4 linked regions of the Homo sapiens genome follow. The protein of the gene in region 2 purifies or fractionates together with the protein of the main gene of each other region. This does not show direct contact. Each region holds a gene or a part of one and is shown on either strand. Other genes may lie near its edges.

The links. The genes of interacting proteins can lie anywhere in the genome.
Region 1: the proteins of KNOP1 (region 2) and PDGFRL purify together in Homo sapiens (co-immunoprecipitation; one large-scale study listed by IntAct). This does not show direct contact.
Region 3: the proteins of KNOP1 (region 2) and GLYR1 purify together in Homo sapiens (affinity purification with mass spectrometry; one large-scale study listed by BioGRID and IntAct). This does not show direct contact.
Region 4: the proteins of KNOP1 (region 2) and SMR3B purify together in Homo sapiens (co-immunoprecipitation; one large-scale study listed by IntAct). This does not show direct contact.

What each region holds. Positions count from the first base shown.
Region 1 is NC_000008.11:17,635,126-17,639,736, forward strand, and holds part of PDGFRL (platelet-derived growth factor receptor-like protein precursor), read left to right. Parts: intron 1-4,611.
Region 2 is NC_000016.10:19,702,725-19,708,227, forward strand, and holds part of KNOP1 (lysine-rich nucleolar protein 1), read right to left. Parts: intron 4,498-5,503; coding exon 4,186-4,497; 3' UTR 1-4,185.
Region 3 is NC_000016.10:4,837,268-4,841,878, reverse strand, and holds part of GLYR1 (cytokine-like nuclear factor N-PAC), read left to right. Parts: intron 1-488; exon of another isoform or gene 489-1,627; intron 1,628-2,199; exon of another isoform or gene 2,200-2,636; intron 2,637-4,611. UniProt on the Homo sapiens protein: Cytokine-like nuclear factor with chromatin gene reader activity involved in chromatin modification and regulation of gene expression. Acts as a nucleosome-destabilizing factor that is recruited to genes during transcriptional activation.
Region 4 is NC_000004.12:70,380,887-70,385,951, forward strand, and holds the start of SMR3B (submaxillary gland androgen-regulated protein 3B precursor), read left to right. Parts: upstream 1-2,244; 5' UTR 2,245-2,326; intron 2,327-3,610; 5' UTR 3,611-3,624; coding exon 3,625-3,678; intron 3,679-5,065.

The sequences.
Region 1 (4,611 bases), on a different chromosome or scaffold from region 2:
TTTTTAATATATTTTGTCATTTTTGATTTCAATCGGTTTTTAAGAACAGTAGGTGTGTGTTACGTGAATAAGTTCCTTAGATGATTTCTGAGATTTCGGTGTATCCATCACTTGAGCAGTGTACACTATACCCAATGTATAGGCTTTTATCTCTCACCCCTCCCCCCAACCCTTTCCCCTGAATCCCCAAAGTTCATTGTGTCATTCTTATGTCTGCATCCTCATAGCTTAGCTCGCATTTAACAGTAAGAACATACCATGTTTGGTTTTCCATTTGTGAATTACTTCAATTAGAATAATGGTCTCCATCCAGGTTGCTGCAAATGCCATTATTTAATTCCTTTTTATGGCTGAGTAGTATTCCATGGTATATATACTACATTTCTTTATCCACTCATTGATTGATGGGCATTTGAGCTGGTTCCATATTTTTGCACTTGTGAATTGTACTGCTGTAAACATGTGTTCAAATATCTTTTTCATATTATGACTTCTTTTCCTCTGGGTAGATACCCAGTAATGGGATTGCTGGATCAAATGGTGGTTCTACTTTTAGTTCTTTAAGGAATCTCCACAGTTTTCCATAGTGGTTGTACTAGTTTACATTCCCACCAGCAGTGTAACAGTGTTGCCTTTTCACCACATCCATGCCAACATCGATTATTTTTTAATTTTTAAATTATGGCCATTCTTGCAGGAGTAAGGTGGTATCACATTGTGGTTTTGATTTGCATTTCCCTAATCATTAGTGATGTTGAGTACGTTTTCATATGTTTGTTGGACTTTGGTATGTCTTTTGAGAATTGTCTATTCATGTCCTAAGCCCAATTTTTGATGGGATTGTTATTTTCTTGCTGATTTGTTTGAGTTCCTTGTAGATTCTGGGTGTTAGTCCTTTTTCAGATGTATGGATTGCAAAAATTTTCTCCCACTCTGTGGGTTGTGTGTTTATTCTACTGATTATTTCTTTTGCTGTGCAGAAGTTTTTTAGTTTAATTAAGCCCGATCTATCTTTGTTTTTGTTGCATTTGCTTTTTGGTTCTTGGTCATGAACTCTTTGCCTAAGCCAATGTCTAGAAAGGTTTTTCCACTGTTATCTTCTAGAATTTTTATGGTTTCAGGTCTTAGATTTAAGTATTTGATCCACCTTGAGTTGATTTTTGTATAAGGTGAAAGATAAGGATTCAGTCTTATTCATCATCTACATTTGGCTTGCCAATTATCCCAGCACCATTTGGTGAATAGGGTGTCCTTTCCCCATTTTATGCTTTTGTTTGCTTTGTCAAAGATCAGTGTAAGTATTTGGGTTTATTTCTGGGTTCTCTATTCTGTTCCACTGGTCTATGTGCTATTTTTATACCAGTACCATGCTGTTTTGGTGACTATGGCCTTATAGTATAGTTTGAAGTCAGGTAATGGGATGCCTCTAGATTTGTTTTTTTTTTTTGCTTAGTCTTGTTTTGGCTCTGCAGATTCTTTTTTGGTTCCACATGAATTTTAGGATTGTTTTTTCTAGTTCTGTGAAGAATGATGGTGGTGTTTTGGTGGGAATTGCATTGAATCTGTGGATTGCTTTTCGCAGTATGGTCATTTTCACAATATTGATTCTACCCATCCATGAGCATGCGATGTGTTTCCATTTGTTTGTGTCATCTATGATTTCTTTCAGCAGTGTTTTGTAGTTTTCCTTGCAGAGGTCTTTCACCTCCTTGATTAGGTATATTTCTGAGTATATATATTTTTTGCAGCTATTATAAAAGGGGTTGAGTTATTGATTTGATTCTCAGCTTGGTTGCTGTTGGTTTATAGCAGAGCTACTGATTTGTTTACATTAATTTTGTATCCTGAAACTTTGCTAAATTCATCTATCAGTTCTAGCAGCTTTTTGGAGGAGTCTTTAGGGTTTTCTAGGTATATGATTACATCATCAGCAAACAGCGACAGTTTGACTTCGCTTTATTGATTTGGATGCCCTTTATTTCTTTCTCTTGTCTGATTGCTCTGGCGAGGACTTCCAGTACTATGTTGAATGCAAGTGGGCATCCTTGTCTTGTTGCAGTTCTCAGGGGAAATGCTTTCAACTTTTTCCCATTCAGTATAGACAGTTTTCATTACCTTAAGGTATGTCCCTTCTATGCCAATTTTGCTGAGGGTTTTAATCATAAAGGGATGCTGGATTTTGTCAAATGTTTTTTGTGTGTCTGTTGAGATGATCATGTGATTTTTTGTTTTTAATTCTATGTGGTGTATCCCATTAATGTCTTGTGTATGTTAAACCACCCCAGTATGAAACCCATTTGATCATGGTGGACTATCTATTTGATATGCTGTTGGATTTGGTTAGCTAGTATTTTGTTAAGGATTTTTGCATCTATATTCATCAAACATGTTGGTCTATAGTTTTCTCTTTTTTGTTATGTCCTTTCCTGGTTTTGGTATTAGGGTGATACTGGCTTCACAGAATGATTTAGGGAGGATTCCTTCTTTCTCTGTCTTGTGAAATAATGTTGATAGGATTGATACCAGTTCTTAGAATGTCTGATAGAATTCATTTGTGAATCCATCTGATTCTGGGCTTATTTTTGTTGGCAGTTTTTTAAATTACCATTTCAATCTCACTGCTTGTTATTGGTCTGTTCAGAGTTTCTCTTTCTTCCTGGTTTAATCTAGGAGGGTGGTATAATTCCAGGAATTTATCCATCTCTTCTAGGTTTTCTAGCTTGAGTATGTAAAGCTGTTCACAGTAGCCTTGAATTATCTTTTGTATTTCTGTGGTATTGGTTGTAATATCTTGTTTCATTTCTAACTGAAGCTTATTTGGATCTTCTTGGTTAATTTTGTTAATAGTCTATCAGTTTTATTTATCTTTTCAAAGAATCAGCTTTTTGTTTATCTTTTGTATTTTTTTGGTTCAATTTCATTCAGTTCTGCTCAGATCTTTATTTCTTTTGTTCTGCTATGTTTGGGTTTGGTTTGTTCTGGTTTTTCCAGTCCTTGAGGTGTGACCTTAGATTGTCTATTTGTGCTCTTTCAGACTTTTTGATGTAGTCATTTAATGCTATGAACTTTCCTCTTAGCACTGCCTTTGCTGTATACCAGAGGTTTTGATAGGTTGTGCTACTATTTTCATTCAGTTCAAATAATTTTTTAACTTCCATCGTGATTTCATTCTTGACCCAGTGATCATTCAGGAGCAGGTTATTTAATTTCCATGTGTTTGTATGTTTTGAGGGTTGCTTTTGGAATTGAGTTCCAATTTTATTCCACCGTGGTCTGAGAGAGTACTTGATATAATTTCAGTTTTCTTAAATTTATTGAAACTTGTTTTGTGGCTTATGATATGGTCTCTCTTGGAGAATGTTCCATGTGCTGATGAATAGAATGTATATTCTGCAGTTGTTGGGTCGAATGTTCTACAAATAGCCCTTAAGTCCATTTGTTCTAGGTTATAGTTTAAATCCATTGTTTCTTTGTTGATGTTCTGTCTTGATTACCTATCTATTGCTGACAGTGGAGTATTGAAGTTCCCCACTATTACTGTGTTGCAGTCTATCTCATTTCTTAGGTGTAACAGTAATTGTTTTATAAATTTGGGAGCTCTGGCATTAGGTGCATATATATATATATATATATATATATATATATATATATATATATATATAATTGTGATATTTTCCTGTTGGGCAAGTCCTTTTATCATTACATAATGTCCGTCTTTCTCTTTTTTAACTGCTGTTTCTTTAACGTTTGTTCTGTCTGATATAAGAACAGCTACTCCTCTATAAGACAGGCCTGCACCTGTAATCCCAGCTACTAAGGAGGCTGAGGCACAAGAATCACTTGAACCTGGGAGGTGGAGGTTGCATTGAGCCAAGATTGAGCCATTGCACTCCAGTCTGGCCGACAGAGTGAGACTCTGTCTCAAACAAAACAAAACAAACAAAAAGAATAGCTACTCCTGCTCACTTTGGTGTCCCTTTGCATGGAATATCTTTTCCCAGCCCTTTACCATAAGTTTATGTTAGTCCTATTTGTTAGGTGAGTCTCTTCAAAACAGCAGATACTTGGTTGGTGACTTCTTACCCATTCTGCCATTCTGAATCTTTTAAATGGAGCATTTAGGCCATTTACATTCAACATTAGTATTCAGATGTGAGGTACTATTCTATTCATCTTGCTATTTGTTGCCCGAATACCTTGGTTTTTATTTATTTATTTATTTATTGTGTTTTTGTTTTATAGGTCCTATGAGATTTATGCTTTAAGAAGGTTCTATTTTGGTGTATTTCAAGGATTTGTTTCAATATTTAGTGCTCCTTTTAGCATTTCTTACAGTGCTGGGTTTGTAGTGGCGAATTTTCTCAGCATTTGTTTGTCTGAAAAAGACTGTATCTCTCCTTCATTTATGAAGCTTAGTTTTGCTGTACACAAAATTCTTAGATGATGATTCTTTTGTTTAAGGAGGCTGAAGGTAGGGCCTCAATTTCTTCTAGCTTGTAGGGTTTCTGCTGAGGAATCTGCTGTTAATCTGACATGTTTTCCTTTATAAGTTATCTGGTGCTTTTGCCTCACAGCTCTTAAGATTCTTTCCTTCATCTTCGCTTTAGATAA
Region 2 (5,503 bases):
GCTCATGCCTGTAATACCAACACTTTGGGAGGCTGAGGTAGGTGGATCATGAGGCCAAGAGATCAAGACCATCCTGGCCAACATGGTGAAACTCCATCTCTACTAAAAATACAAAAAAAAATTAGCTGGGTGTGGTGGTGCTCACCTGTAATCCCAGCTTCTCAGGAGGCTGAGGCAGGAGAATCGCTTGAACCCTGGAGGTGGAGGTTGCAGTGAGCTGAGATCACGCCTCTGCACTCCAGCCTGGGCGTGGAGTGAGAGTGAGACTGTCTCAAAAAAAAAAAAAGAAAGAAAAACAAAACCATGGCAACTTCCACATGAGACTTACTTACATTAGGTCTTCTATTGTTACTTTAACAAATTGCCACAATTGTAGCGGCTTAAAACATAATGTTGTCATCTGACGGTTCTATAGGTCTTAAGTCCGCCTGGTCTCACTGAGCTAAAATTAAGGCATCAGCAGGGCTACGCTCCTTCTGGGAGGCTCTAGGGGAGAATCTACTTCCTTGCCTTTTCCAGCTTCTAGACAGCACACACATTCCTTGGCTTCTGACCCTTCCCTTCCCATCTTCAAAACCAGCAGTGTCTAGTCAAGTCTTTCTTAAGTCTCTTTGATGTGGACTCTTTTTTGCCTTCCTCTTCCACATTTAGGGATCTTTGTGATTCCTCCGGCCCACCCAGAAACACGGGATCCTCTTCCTGTTTTAAGGTCAGCTGATTAGCAAACTTAATTCCCTTTTGTTTCGTAACCTAACAAATACACAGGTTCTGAGGAGATGTGGTAGGAAGGGGTGTTATTCTGCCAACTTCTTTTGTGAGGACTGTGTCTATTTGGCAAATTTTTTTTTTTTTTTGGAATGGGGTCTTGCTCTGTCACCCAGGCTGGAACACAGTGGTGCAATCATGGCTCACTGCAGCCGTGATGGAGGGTGGTGCTCAAACCAATGTTAATTTACAAAGGATGGGAGCTCAGAGTGATTCTCCCAAGACAAGACTGCCAGAGGGTGGGGTCCTGCTCATCTGAGAGATGGTGATCTGCACTGGCAGAAAGCAAAAGGACAAGATTAAGTCCATTCTGAAGACACCCAGCATTGTGGTGTCTTGGCTGCCCAACCTCCACTGGTGAGACGTAAAGTTCTTATGTATATAGAAAAGCAATAAAGCTCCCCCTGTGCAAATGGAACTCCTAAGCCAGTGGTGATGTTGAGTTAGAAAGTCACAGCCTATTACAGACAGAATTTACACCAGGGGCAAGGCCTGACCATCACACCCTCATGAGAGCTACCAGTCACCAGGGCTTGGATGGGAGCAACACAGCGGACATATGATCACCTCTCCACAATCACCCAAAGACAGTTTTTTTTTGTTTGTTTTTGAGACAGAGTCTCATTCTGTTGCCCGGGGCTAGAGTGTGCAGTGGCACCATCCCAGCTCACTACAACCTCCACCTCCCGGGTTCAAGCGATTCTCCTGTCAGCCTCCTGAGTAGCCGGGATTACAAGCCCGTGACACCACACCCACCCAGCTAATTTTTGTATTTTTAGTAGAGACGGGGTTTCACCATGTTGGTCAGGCTGGTCTCGAACTCTTGACCTCGTGATCCGCCCACCTTGGCCTCCCAAAGTGCTGGGATTACAGGCGTGAGTCACCGCACCTGGCAGAGCACAACCTTTTTAACAGAGCTAAGGCAGGCCAACGTCAGGGTGACCTCTTGGCAAGATAAAAACTATGAGTAGTAAACGGCCGATTCCAGCTACTCAGGAGACTGAGGCACAAGAATCGCTTGAACCCAGGAAGCAGAGGTTACAATGAGCCGAGATCACGCCACCACACTCCAGCCTGCGCGACCGTGAGACTCCATCTCAAAAAAAAAGAAACGAACGGCTGGTTCCTGTTTACACCAGGCACATTCCTGTAGTGTTGCTCAAGGTCAGGAGGGATTTGTTTCTCCATCAAAGGAGGAGGTGCCCAGAAGGCACTCACTCAAATCCAGAACACTGCCTCTTGGGCTTTCCACGGCCTCTCCCATTATGTATCTCAAGGTTGAATCCAGGAAAGAAAGGCAGGACAAGTTCACGTCCTGAGGGAAGTGGCCCAAGTAGGTCCTTGTAGCACATACTTGTCCAACTATTGACCTGGCCAATGCTTGCGGATCAGGGTTCAGAGCCAGGGAAACTGCCTGAAGTGCCTGCCTCACCTCTGCCCAATGGGCAGCTGTGGACACCATGGCCACTTCACCAGCATCCACTCTTCTTGACTGAAGGGAATCACCAGCCTTCCCATGACAGGGGCGGGTGCAGCTATGGGCAGATGACTCATTGCCCAGCAATGGAGGCTTCTGGAAGTTTCCTTGAGACACAAAAAGGCTTTTCTTCCTCTGGAATGTTCTAGGGTCTTGATATGCTGCCTGGAACTGTTACTGCCATCTTTGTACTAGCCTTGATGAAGCCAACACTGGAGATGATGGAGAGAATGCTTCCTTGGCGAGCTGTTGAACCAGGCCCTAATCAGGCCTTCCTGCCACGTGAGACTGAACTTTCTGGCCATCGAGGCCTGCCTGGGCTGGGATGTCTGTAGGAGGCATGTTCAGGCCAAACGATCGTGAAAATGTCCCAGTCAGAACCTGTATTTTGGGATGCAAAAAGCTAGGTGAGTGGAAAGAAGGTGGTCACAGATGGTCACATGCGACTTGGGCCACTGGACCTGGAGCTCTTTGAGGCTTGCTGTAGAGTCCAGGCTTGGAAACGCTGTCCCCACAGCCGATGAGGCAACTTCCCGTGTCATCTCCACACGTTCATCTCCTCCTGGCATTCAATATCCACCTACAGAAGTCACCTGGGATTCTCTTCCTTGTGATAAAAAAGAATCTCATCAGACACATCCCTGGGGCTGGGCACAGTGGCTCACACCTGTGATCCCAGCTCTTGGGGGCTGAGGCAGGAGCATGAGTTGAGTCCAGGAGTTTGGGACTAGCCTGGACAATATAGTGAGACCCCATCTCTACAAAAAATTTTAAACACTAGCTGGTTGTTGTGGTGCACACCCACAGTCCCAGCTACTTGGGAGGCTGAGGTGGGAGGATCACTTAAGCTGGATAGGTAGTGGTTGCAACAAGCCGTGATATGCCACTACACTCCAGCCTGGGTGACAGAGTGAGAGCCTATCTCAAAACACACACACACGTCCCTGGGATCTGCCATTGATTCATTTGCGGGACTAACCACTCTTCCTAAAATGCCTTGTTCAGAATCCAGTCAAAGCACAAAAATCCTACCTCAGCACTTAGGGCCGAAGGGACACCAGTGGAAAAGGCAGGACTGGTTTAGAGGCACATTTCCCAGCAGCAGCAGCTCAGTCACATGTGTTTGGTAACAACTCAGACACCTCTCTGCCTACAGCTGCTCTATGACAGGGGAAAGGAAAAGGAAGGAAAAGGAGTTTGCGATTCTCCGTTCCTCATTCACTCCACTTTTTATCAGAGATGCAGACTTGTCATAAAACTTTTTCCTCCATCTAAAGACATTTCAATCCCCAACGAGGATTCTGGTGGAAATTCCCTAAAGGGGACATTCAGAGTGGCGAATAGTGAACTTAGGGCTTCGGGTACAAAAGTACAACACCCTGCACTTAGTGGCTGGGTGACCCCAGGCAATTTTATTACTTTATCCCTGAACCTCAGTTGCCTCATCTATAAGATGGGGCTAATAATAGCACCCATTTCATAATTATGAAGATTAAATACATTAAGGAAAACACTAGTATGTCCCTAGTACCTGCTAAACACTCAACAAAAGTTAACTGTACATACTGATGTCTCAAACAGGGACGGAATGTTTAACACAGAAAACAGGAGGTTTTAGCACTCACTCGTTCTCCTGGCTCCCGAAATATGAGCTGCCCTGCCCCAGTTCATCCAAGCCCATCAATATAGTTGTCCTCGTCCTTAATCTCCACAGGTGTTCAATGTGAGCCAACTGTCAGATGGCTTTCATTTGCACAACTGAATAAACCATTTATGCCTAGTGTTCCATTACTGGAACGCTAAGCTTATGGGAGTTATTTATATCTTACTGCTCGAGGTCCTCACCAAGATCTGATTTTTTCACAAAAAAAATTTGTAATCTCCAGCATAAATGGAATAATCAAAGCAATTGTGGCAGTTTTGGGGGGACAAAACTCTAGAGTTTAATCTTCCAGCTTGACTGACTTGGAAGCGTTCCTGTCAATGTAAAAGATCTTGTTGGGGGCGGTGGAGAAGCCGAGGCCGGCTCCCCGGCTGTACTTCCAGCTCATGGCCCGGTCGTAGTCCCGCTGCAGATTCTGCTGCAGGCTGTCAGCCGCCTTCTTGCCGAGGGCCATGTTGGGCCTTGCAATCGTGCTGGCGGGGCGGCTGAACGAAGGGGACAGGTTTTTGAAGCCACCCATAAGTCTGAGAAATTTCAGTTTTTGGTCCTCGTTCTCAAAACCAGCAGTATCCCACTGGCCAAACTGGGTTCCCTGTGAGGAGAGGAAAAAGGTGGCTATTTTCCTTGAGTTCAAAGCCCTTTCCTTCCCTTGACCCCCACCCTCATCAGGGAGGGCCCAGCAGATTAGATGGCTGCTGTGTACCAGGCACAGTGCTAATAAGCTCAACAACGGATTATTCCGTTAATCCTAAAGACAGCCCTATGAGAAACACTGTTGTTATTCCCATTGCACAGAGGAGAAAATAGAGGTCTGCAGCTTAGCTGGAGACAGAAACCTAACTAGTGACCCCCAGAATTCCAGCCCAGGTCCAGCCAACACCACTGCCCACCTCTGCACAGAGCTGCCTTTCTGCCTTCCTCCTCCTTTCCTAACTCATGGCACACGGCACAGTGTGCCTCACTTCACAACAGCGCACTCCCCCCACCACCCTACACTAAGCATTTCCCCCCACCTCCCTACACAGTGCACCTCCCCTCCCCCACCTCCCTACACAGCACACTCCCCCACCACTCTACAGAGCACACTCCCCCCACGACCCTACACAGAGCACTCCCCCCACCTCCCTACACGGCGCACATGGCGCACCTCCTCCCACCACGCTACACAGCACACTCTCCCCCTACCATCCTACAAAGCGCACCTCCCCTAACCACGCTACACAGTGCACTCCCCCCACCACCCTACACATCGCACTCCCCCCACCTCCCTACACAGCACACTCCCCCACCTCCCTACATAGCACTTCCCCCACTCCCTATACAGCGCACCTCCCCCCACCTCCCTACACAGCGCACCTCACCCCACCATGCATCTCACAAGACAGCACACCTCCCCCACCTCCCCACAGGGCGCACCTCCCCTGCAACACAGGGCACCCCACAGCCCAGCAGCCGGGCGCACTCACCCAGCAGCCTAACGTTTGGGTGAATTGGAGGGTGGGAGAGGGCGAGTGGGAATCTGAAGTGTGCTTCTCAGAAGCACTGTTTTATGGCGGGAACGGGTGCGGGCCCACAGGGGTAAAAGGTCACACAGCCAA
Region 3 (4,611 bases), about 15 Mb from region 2:
GATACCATGAACAATTGGCATTAAGCTGGGTGTTATGGAAAGGAAGAGGCTCCCTGCCTGAGGTAACTTGTGCTTAGGAATAACAGAGGCAATATGGTTGGCCCAAACTTCATTAGCTAAATGAATAATTACACAAGTCTGAAACAAAAATGGGAACTCAGTCTCATAAGGAGCCTGAAAGCCATTGTTTCCTTATGTTTTTTGTTGTTGTTGTTGTTGTTGTTGTTCTTGTTTGGTTTCTTGATTTTTTTTTGAGAAAGGGTTGGAGTGCAGTATCACGGACATGGCTTACTGCATCCTTGACTTCCCAGGCTCAGGTAATCCTCCCACCTCAGCAGTCCGAGTAGCTGGGACCACAGTTGTGTGCCACCATGCCCTGCTAAATTTTTTACTTTTTTTTTTTTTTTTTTTTTTTTTTTTTGTAGAGACAAGTTCTCGCCATGTTTCCCAGGCTGGTCGCAAACTCCTGGGCTCAAGTGATCCTCCCACCTCGGCCTCCCGAAGTACTGGCATTATGGGCATGAGCCACAGCGCCGAGCCCCGATTTTTTTTTTAATGCTAAAAGACTAGATTAATAAACTGTGATCCTTGTTTATAACAAGTGCTAGAAATAGGACACAGAAAATTGGAGTTGAGTTAATTTCAGAGCTTAACCAGGCAAACAGGTGAAGCCAGTGGTGATGTGCTTGCTCAAGACAAAAATAGCCTGGATGGTGGTGGTGATGATATAATTTCTAACTGACGAAGGTTCTTTGGAGGGTTGTAAACAAGTGGGATACAAAGCAACTGCTAAATGCAATATTTTTAACTTTTTAAACTCCTTTGCTAGAGTTCTACATTTTAAACTATAAAAATGAAGTCACTGTGGTACTAATGTGTTATCTTTTTGTGGGTAGGCAGTTAACTTAGAGAAAGGAAATAAAGGGTAAAGATGTACAGTACTTCTCTAAAGAAGGAACACTTCCTTAGTGATCAGTGCTGGGGCAGATTTTATTTTGTGTTTTTCTATGAAGGTAAGATCTCCAGATTGGCTGGTGGCAGCAGATTACTTTGGGGAAAGAGCTCTGGATTGGTTACCAGCCTAATGTGCATTCAGGTACCGGTTCCACCTTGCTCCCTGATTTGGGCAAGCTATTTCACCTTTCTGAGCCTCTGTGTCCTCTACATAAGGGGATGATACCCCCTACCTCATAGTTAGGAAGGAAAAGTAGTATCTCTTGTGTAGAGTGTGGCTTGCCATACAGCAGGTATTAGCACACATTGGTCCAGGATGCCTTTAAGTATGGAAAACTGAGAGAGATGGAGACTCTCCCTATGGGAGAGAGAGAGAGTGTGTGTGTGTGTGTTTGTTTGAAAAGAAAGGAATATGAGAGTTGGAAGTTCCTAAAGGATGTCAGCCAGGTTTGCTCTTTTTACCAAAAAGGCTTTGAGTACAAAACCATGCATCATTCCACCTTTATGTAAAACTGTATGCGCCTCATCAGGAATACTCTATGGACTTCAGATCATGCTTTCAAAGGGATCTCTTAGAATTGGCCAAGATCCAGAAAAGGGAACTGAGTCAGACAAAAGAGCAGGACTCTTCAATGTGGAAAAGCAAAGACTGAAGGAATCACGGGATCAGGAGGTAGGAAACAGCGAATGGCCTAGAGGAGTTTGGCGATGGGCACTGCAAGTGGATTGTGGTATGACTGTGTTAGGACCAGGGTGAGGAGCACTGCATAAAAGGGGCGTTTAAGAGGTGGTGTAAACAGGTATTGCAAGGGGATTTTTTAGGGATGAGAACTAACTTGTGAAGACAAAGCCATAAGTGGCTCCTGTAGAAGCTGGACTGCACCTCGCCTTTAACACTTGACATCAGGGAGGGGGCATGTGGTCCAGGCACATCCTGGGTGGGGGCACCATTGGTTACTGGACCCTGGCCCAGGTGGATAGGGTCTGACCCAGTGGAGTGTCCTCCGTTCCTGAGAAATACAGGATTTGGTCAAAGATGTTCAGTTTCAAAATTGACACACTACTTAGGCAAAAAAAAGTGTAGTTATACTTTTTTAATATTTGCAAGGTCTTTTATTAAAGAGCAGAAAGAACGGCTCCTTATGACAAGATAATCAGTGATTACAATCTTTTAGAAACCTGATTTTTCTCTCTCCACATCTCTGCCAAAATATCTAACAAATTGTGTTGACATCCCACTGTTAGGAGAGGGCCAGACCTTCCTAATCAGGTGTCCTGGTGAGAGGAGGACTTCTTTATACGGATTCGGCTCCCTGAGCGAGATGGCCAAGACAAAACTGCCCACGTAATTTTTGTATTTTCATGGAAATACGAAGGGGATATAATTTCAGCAAAACCCTGCCAGCTTCACTTGGTGACTACAACCAAAGATTATGTGTCAAGTGCACGAGGGTCCCTCTCTGACAGGTCTGATTAGTGGTGACCCCCCCATCAGAGTAGAGACAGAGCTCACGGTTTAAAAGTTTCATCGGGGCCAGGCGTGATGGCTCACACCCGTAATCCCAACACTTCAAGAGGCAGAGGCAGAAGCATCACTCAAGCCTAAGAGTTCAAGGCCAGCCTGGGTAACATGGCAAGACCCATCTCTACAAAAAATTTAAAAATAAAAAATTTAAAGCTACCATGCCGGCTTGTTCTCACCTTTATACTCTATGCTTGTGTGTGTGTTTGTGTGTGTGTGTGTGCTTTTTCTCTGTCTGTCTCCCTCCCCCTGCCATCTTCTCCCCGCCCTTTCTCCTTTTCTCTTTCTCTTAGCTTCACGGCTTCAGCCCAGGTCACCTGTCTATCCGAAGGCTGAAACACAGGTGAGAGGGTTCATGCGTAGTAGCATGTACCTGTAGTCTCAGCTACTTGGGAGACTGAAGCAGAAGGATCGCTTGAGCCTGGGAGGTCAAGGCTACAGTGAACTGTGATTGAGGCACTGTATTCCAGCCTGGGTGACAGAGCAGGACCCTGTCTTTTAAAAAAGAAGAGTTTTGGCCAGGCACGGTGGCTCACATCTGTAATCCCAGAACTTTCAAAGGGCAAGTCAGGCGGATCACGAGGTCAGGAGATCAAGACCATGCTGGCTAACATGGTGAAACCCCGTCTCTCCTAAAAATACAAAAAAATTAGCTGGGCGTGGTGGCGGGCACCTGTAGTCCCAGCTACTCGGGTGGCTGAGGCAGGAGAATGGCGTGAACCCCAGAGGCAGAGCTTGCCGTAAGTCGAGATCGCGCCACTGCACTCCAGCCTGGGCAACAGAGTGAGACTCTGTCTCAAAAAAAAAAAAAGAAAAGTTTCATCAGTGGCTGTGGATGATGATGGAATGGAGGGAGTGTTCATTTAAATTACAGGTGCTTAGAAGCCACCAGAAACCAACCGGTTCAACAGATTGTGGACAAACAGTGGAGAAGCTGCAAGTGCCTACCTGCGAGTTTCCATAGCAGTCTTCCCCTCCAGTCCTCACAGCAGCCCTTTCAGGAAGTGCACAGGGTCATCTTTCTGGTTCTTATTTTTTCACAGATGAGGAAACTGAGAGACCAGTGGTCCTTTTCCACCAAGCCACATCTAAGGTGGACCGGTCTCGCTGGATGTGAGGTGTCTGAGTCAGTACTGAAAGTAGCTGCTCTAGAAGAATATGTGGTTAATAATTAGAAGCATAGCAGCTTGGAAGCATCCCTTTTTCGTTTCACCTGGCACCTGATTTGTGTGTGTTTTTTTCTGGTGCCTTTATTTCTGAAGAACTTGGCCTGTAACACCTCAGTAATCTTCAGCCCCTTTGGATGGATTTTTTTTAAAAAGGCACCCATAGAAATTGTTTACTAAGTATTCACCAAATCCAAATGGAGAAGCAAACCCACACCTTCTGGCCCCATCTTTGTTCTCACCTGTATTTTTATTCTTATCTTTATTTATTTATTTATTTATTTATTTATTTATTTATTTATTTTTTGAGATGGAGTCTCGCTCTGTCGCCAGGCTGGAATGCAGTGGCACGATCTTGGCTCACTGCAACCTCCGCCTCCTGGGTTCAAGCGATTATCCTGCCTCAGCCTCCGGAGTAGCTGGGATTACAGGCGCATGCCACCGCACCTAGCTAATTTTGTATTTTTAGTAGAGACAGGGTTTCACCGTGTTGGCCAGGGTGGTCTCAATCTCTTGACCTCGGCCTCCCAAAGTGCTAGGATTATAGGCGTGAGCTACCGTGCCGGCTTGTTCTCACCTTTATACTCTATGCTTGTGTGTGTGTGCTTTTTCTCTGTCTGTCTCCCTCCCCCTGCCATCTTCTCCCCGTCCTTTCTCCTTTTCTCTTTCTCTTAGCTTCACGGCTTCACCCCGGGTCACCTGTCTATGTGAAGGCTGAAACACATGTGACAGCGTTCAAGATTAGTCATAGGCTGACATCTTTAATATACAGTATCTACATGTATGATTTTCTTTTTTTTTTTTTAAAGACCAAGTCTTGCTCTGTCGCCCATGCTGGAGTGCAGTAGCACGATCTGCACTCACTACAACCTCCACCTCCCGGGTTCAAGCAGTTCCTGCCGCAGCCTCCTAAGTAGCTGGGATTACAGACGTGTGCTACCACAACTGGCTAATTTTTGTGTTTTCTGG
Region 4 (5,065 bases), on a different chromosome or scaffold from region 2:
AGAAATTGTCTTTCGGTTTTGCCAGCGTTCATCCTAAATCCCTCAGAGCCAATGATCCATTACAATGTAGATCCCACTTTGACTTCAGACATTTGGCTGGTGAATATGTTGGCATCAAAACAAGAAAGAAGAGATATTCAGCTTTTGACAAACTGAATTATCATCAAAGAAAGAAGTGGAAATTTCTATGTTAATTAGGAATAGAACCATCTTCACTGATGTTGGGGCATGTAATCATTCAGCAACATATTAAGGGCTAAGATTAGCAAACCAGGAGTATATTGTATTACACTTAATTAAGTCATCAGAATTTTTTAAAGGCAGTGAAACTCCAACAAAGTAAATGAAATTAAGAAGAGTCATTCAAAACTAACATCAACTCTGGAAGTGCAGCTTCTTTATTGCTATCCCACCTCACAAAGGATTTTTAAAACACTAAGCACTTAGATATGCTGTAAATTCAGCAACTTGCACTATGTCTTGTACCCAGCAGATATTCAATAAATGTAGGAGGGAGGGAGGGAAGGAAGGAAGGAGGGCAGGAGGGAAGGAGGGAAGGAGAGAGGGGAGGGAGGGGAGGGAGGGGAGGGGAGGGGAGAAAGGAAGGTTGGTTGTAAACTTCATGACCTAAAAATTATAAATATACACATTTTTCAAATGAAGAAATTGAAACACAATGAGATAAAATAGCTTGTCTCATATAACCCAGCAAAGAATTGTTGGTATTTGGCTTTGAAGTAGAATTACCTGACTATTAAGTTCACTTGATTCATCTCTACAGTGTACTGTAACATAAAGTTAGTTAAGTGTATGGTGATTATTAAGATTTGGGGAGCAACATGGAATGCTGGTTAAAAACTCACTCAGGCCCCTGTAGGGAGACTTAGGTCTTCACTCAGTGGGAAGACTTAGGTCAAGCCCCACTTAGCTAGTTAGCATCTATGTCATCTATGTGTACAACAGAGATAACAATAGAACTCATTTTATCCTGCCACGTGGAATATGCTAAAGGTTTAATAAGTAATAGCTGTTATTATTAAATAATAATGTGTCAAAACTACAGATTATAGGATCATCTAGCTTAGGAAAAATTATGCTCAAAGCCTAGATTTATCAAAAAAACAAGGCTGTAATTTTCCATTAGACATCCACTTCAAAGTCAAGATATCCGTATAATTTTGCCATAATCAAAAATTTTGCTTGTCATTATATTTTTATTTAATTAAATGTCTCAAGTTAATAATGGCAAGGACCACATGATTTTTAAAACACAGTTGTTCTCATTTAGTTCTTCACTGGCAAAAGGAACTTCCTAAAAAATGCATATATAAGGTCTTGTAAATAGTCTACTAACTTAAGATAATCACAAAGAAATGAAATATAGTTAAGACTGAGAAACTGCATGAACCTTCTGACTATTATCCCTCTTCCACCACTAGATTTTTCTTTCCTGCTTTTTTGAAACTTAGATCCAAATCTTAATAGCAGCACTCATTTTCATCATCCTTCAGAAACATCTACTCAATGAAGACAACTGTGAAAAACCATACATAGGATAAGATATATACAAACTTTCAAGCACAAAACAATAATACAATTTCATTATTTCAACCAAAAAATAGAAACATGAAACCCACAACATATAGCAAAGTGATCAAAACAGTCAAGTGAAATTTTAGATATTCTTTACATTACTGGCCATGCATCGTACCTGCGTGCATGTGTGTGTGTGTGGTATTTAGCAATATTTATTTAATTAGGCACTTTTAATTTTAATTATCATTTTTGTTCCCCTAGGTTCTCCTGATCATGTTAGAATTCAGTTTAAAAATATTTGTATTTCGCACATATGGAGGCCTTTGAAATAAAATAGAAAATATGATGAGACTAGCAAATAACAAAAGATGGCCCATTAAATCACTTGGAACAGAAAAAACTCGTGCCAGCTTTTCCTTTGAAATAAAGAGGAAATGGTGCACCACAGGCCCCAGATTGTTTTTCTGAGGTGATAGGATATTATGATTTGTTGTATCTGTTTCCTCAGGAAACAGCAAATGTTGAACAGGTCAATGCTTTTCAGGAATGAAAAAAAATCCAGAAAAAGACTGCCAAATTGGCAAGAACAACTTTCCTATCTTTGAAGAGCATCAACTCGGAAGTTATTTTATTTCCGAATAGCCTTTCTCTTATTGCCAACAGAAATCCATTACAATATATAAGAGCTAAGATTTCTTGTCCCTTTTCACCTTTATTTGCCGTCTTTCAACTGGCAAGAGTCATTTTGACCAGCAGATTAATCAACTGTAAGACAGATCCTCACACAAAGGTAGGTACTTGGAAATATAAACTGAATATTTTTACTTTGAATATTGAAATTTTTCTCAAAGATAACATTTTCAACGATAACATTTTATGGGCTTTTCATAGAACATTCATTATCAGCAAAAACATAAGTAGCTTACATGAAATTGTAAGTCATTAAATGCAATAAATTTTGAAAAATTCTGGTTTTTACAGGTCAGAGTAAAACATTCATGTTGGGCATTTGGGCCAATCGGTCCATCCAAGTACACAATTGACTTTTCCTCCTGATGTACCTTAAAGTTCTTGAAACTTCATAAGGATAGAATAGTCTCAGGTGTACTCTAAAAGACAGAATTGCTCTACAGAATATTTTTATTATTGGTTTTTCTTTTGTTTTTCAAACTTAATTTAAGAATGGATATAGGAAAAGTACTAGTTAAAGGAATAGCCACACCCACATATATATAATTGAATATCCAGTGAAATTTTGTCCATAGGATTCTTTCAAGACTTGCATTGCTCAGACCACACACTCAACCTATGTGCAGAGTTGACTAACAGGAAGCCAATTTGCACCATGGTGTATGGAGTTGCTTTCCCAAAAATCAAGCTATCATGTACTTGAAATATATTGTAAAATTTGACCCAATTGAGAGTAGAATACCTGGACATCTCCATGTTCTTGCCTTGGTCTCTGATATATGGATTTTTGGAAGCACTTTGAGACCACTCATCACAGCCTAAATTAATGTAATAGAATGTTGTTAAAACTAGGAAATATATTATGTGACTCTTCTTTTAGACTATATCCAACAGGGTGATTCCTTTTTTTTTTCCTTATTTTTAAGCTCTTCCAAGCAATAAAATTTGTAACATAAGATCTAGTTAAAATGTTAATATCTCAAACCCATCCATAGAAATCTATAATGTATCTACTATTTTTAAAATATCAAAATGTTCAAATGAAAATAAGTATACATTTTAAAGTAGTTACTTCTAAGGGAAAAACCTTAGTCATAAAAGCTTCTATTGCTCAGAGCAATGTATGAACAACTCTTTGGCATTATCCCCAGGATCAGTTTACAAGTCAAAAATAAAAACTACTTCCACTATTTTGAAGTCAAATTTTATAAGCCTACTAATATTGCCCCACAGTAATACTGAATTCAAAATAACATTAGGCAAATTCCCTAAAAATGCTATAGTAGGATATTTGTATTACATTATATCCAAGTGTTGAGACATTTTAAATAGTACTTTTTAATAAAAAACAATCATACTGATCACCTATTGTGCTTACTTTCAGAGGCAACTGAAAGGATGAAATCACTGACTTGGATCTTGGGCCTTTGGGCTCTTGCAGCGTGTTTCACAGTAAGTATCATTAATCACGATCACACTTCTTTATAGTTTCTCATTAACCATTACTTCAGATTTCTTTTTACATTAATGATGTTACCTTTTCTTATATATTAGTAACTATTAATCATCAATGAAACACTGTTTAGGGCTTAAATTTAAATTTAAAATCTAATTTAAATAACCACACATGTCTGATGGCTGCCATACTGGACAGCTCAAGTCTGTGGTATCAGACTGCATTAAACAGATACGTATAAATGTTAAGTTCCCATACTCTAGTCAGTTACACAGTAGGTAAAACTCTATAAAAATAGATAATCAAAATAAAACCGTTTTCCCAGCATGTAGTTTATGGATCATTTACACCAGAGTCACCTAACTCACTTATTAAAAATATAGTAAAGACCTCATCCAAGCTTCAATAAGAGTATCAGATAATGGGACCTGGAAAGATGCATTTTACTAAGGATCTACAAGTATCTTTGCATGCTAAATTTTGGGAGAATGCTAAGCATTTATATATAAACAGCTACTTTGTATACAAAACCAGGTTAAAGACAAATGAGATACTAAATATCATACAAAATTACAAAAATGTTTTTAAAACACACGTATTTCAAAGTAGTAGAATCATACTCGATTTCAAAGTAGTGTTAGATTAATTCCAGTGACAGAAAGAGAATATTAATTCCAGAGTAATTTCCACCAAAGTACTATAAAATCTATATCAAATTGAAAAATATGAAAGCTGTTTTTTTTAGATTATGACTTCCACAAATCAAGCAACATAAATTTACATCATTCTGAAACATGAAACATAAAATAATTCCTTTTTCATCTACTTTGTTTTTTTTTTTTTTTTTTTTTTTGAAACAGACTCTCGCTCTGTCGCCCAGGCTGGAGTACAGTGGCGCGATCTCGGCTCACTGCAAGCTCCGCCTCCCGGGTTCGCGCCATTCTCCTGCCTCAGCCTCCGGTGTAGCTGGGACTACAGGCGCCCGCCACCACGGCCGGCTAATTTTTTTGTATTTTTAGTAGAGACGGGGTTTCACCGTGTTAGCCAGGATGGTCTCGATCTCCTGACCTCGTGATCCGCCAGCCTCGGCCTCCCAAAGTGCTGGGATTACAGGCGTGAGCCACCGTGCCCGGCCTCATCTACTTTCAAAAAGGAACAAAATCAGGAAATTCTAAGGTTACTGAGGTAGTCTGACCTTGGCTAAATTACTGAGAGCATTATATGTTGACATAATTTTTAATAAACCAATAAAATATATTGATATATTTTAAAGGTAATATCTTAATGGCTTGATTATAAAGCTTATTTTCAATATTTTTATTCCCTCAGAATACAAAAGAAAAACATTTATAATTTCAAAGTATCAGGCTTTTATTATATAAA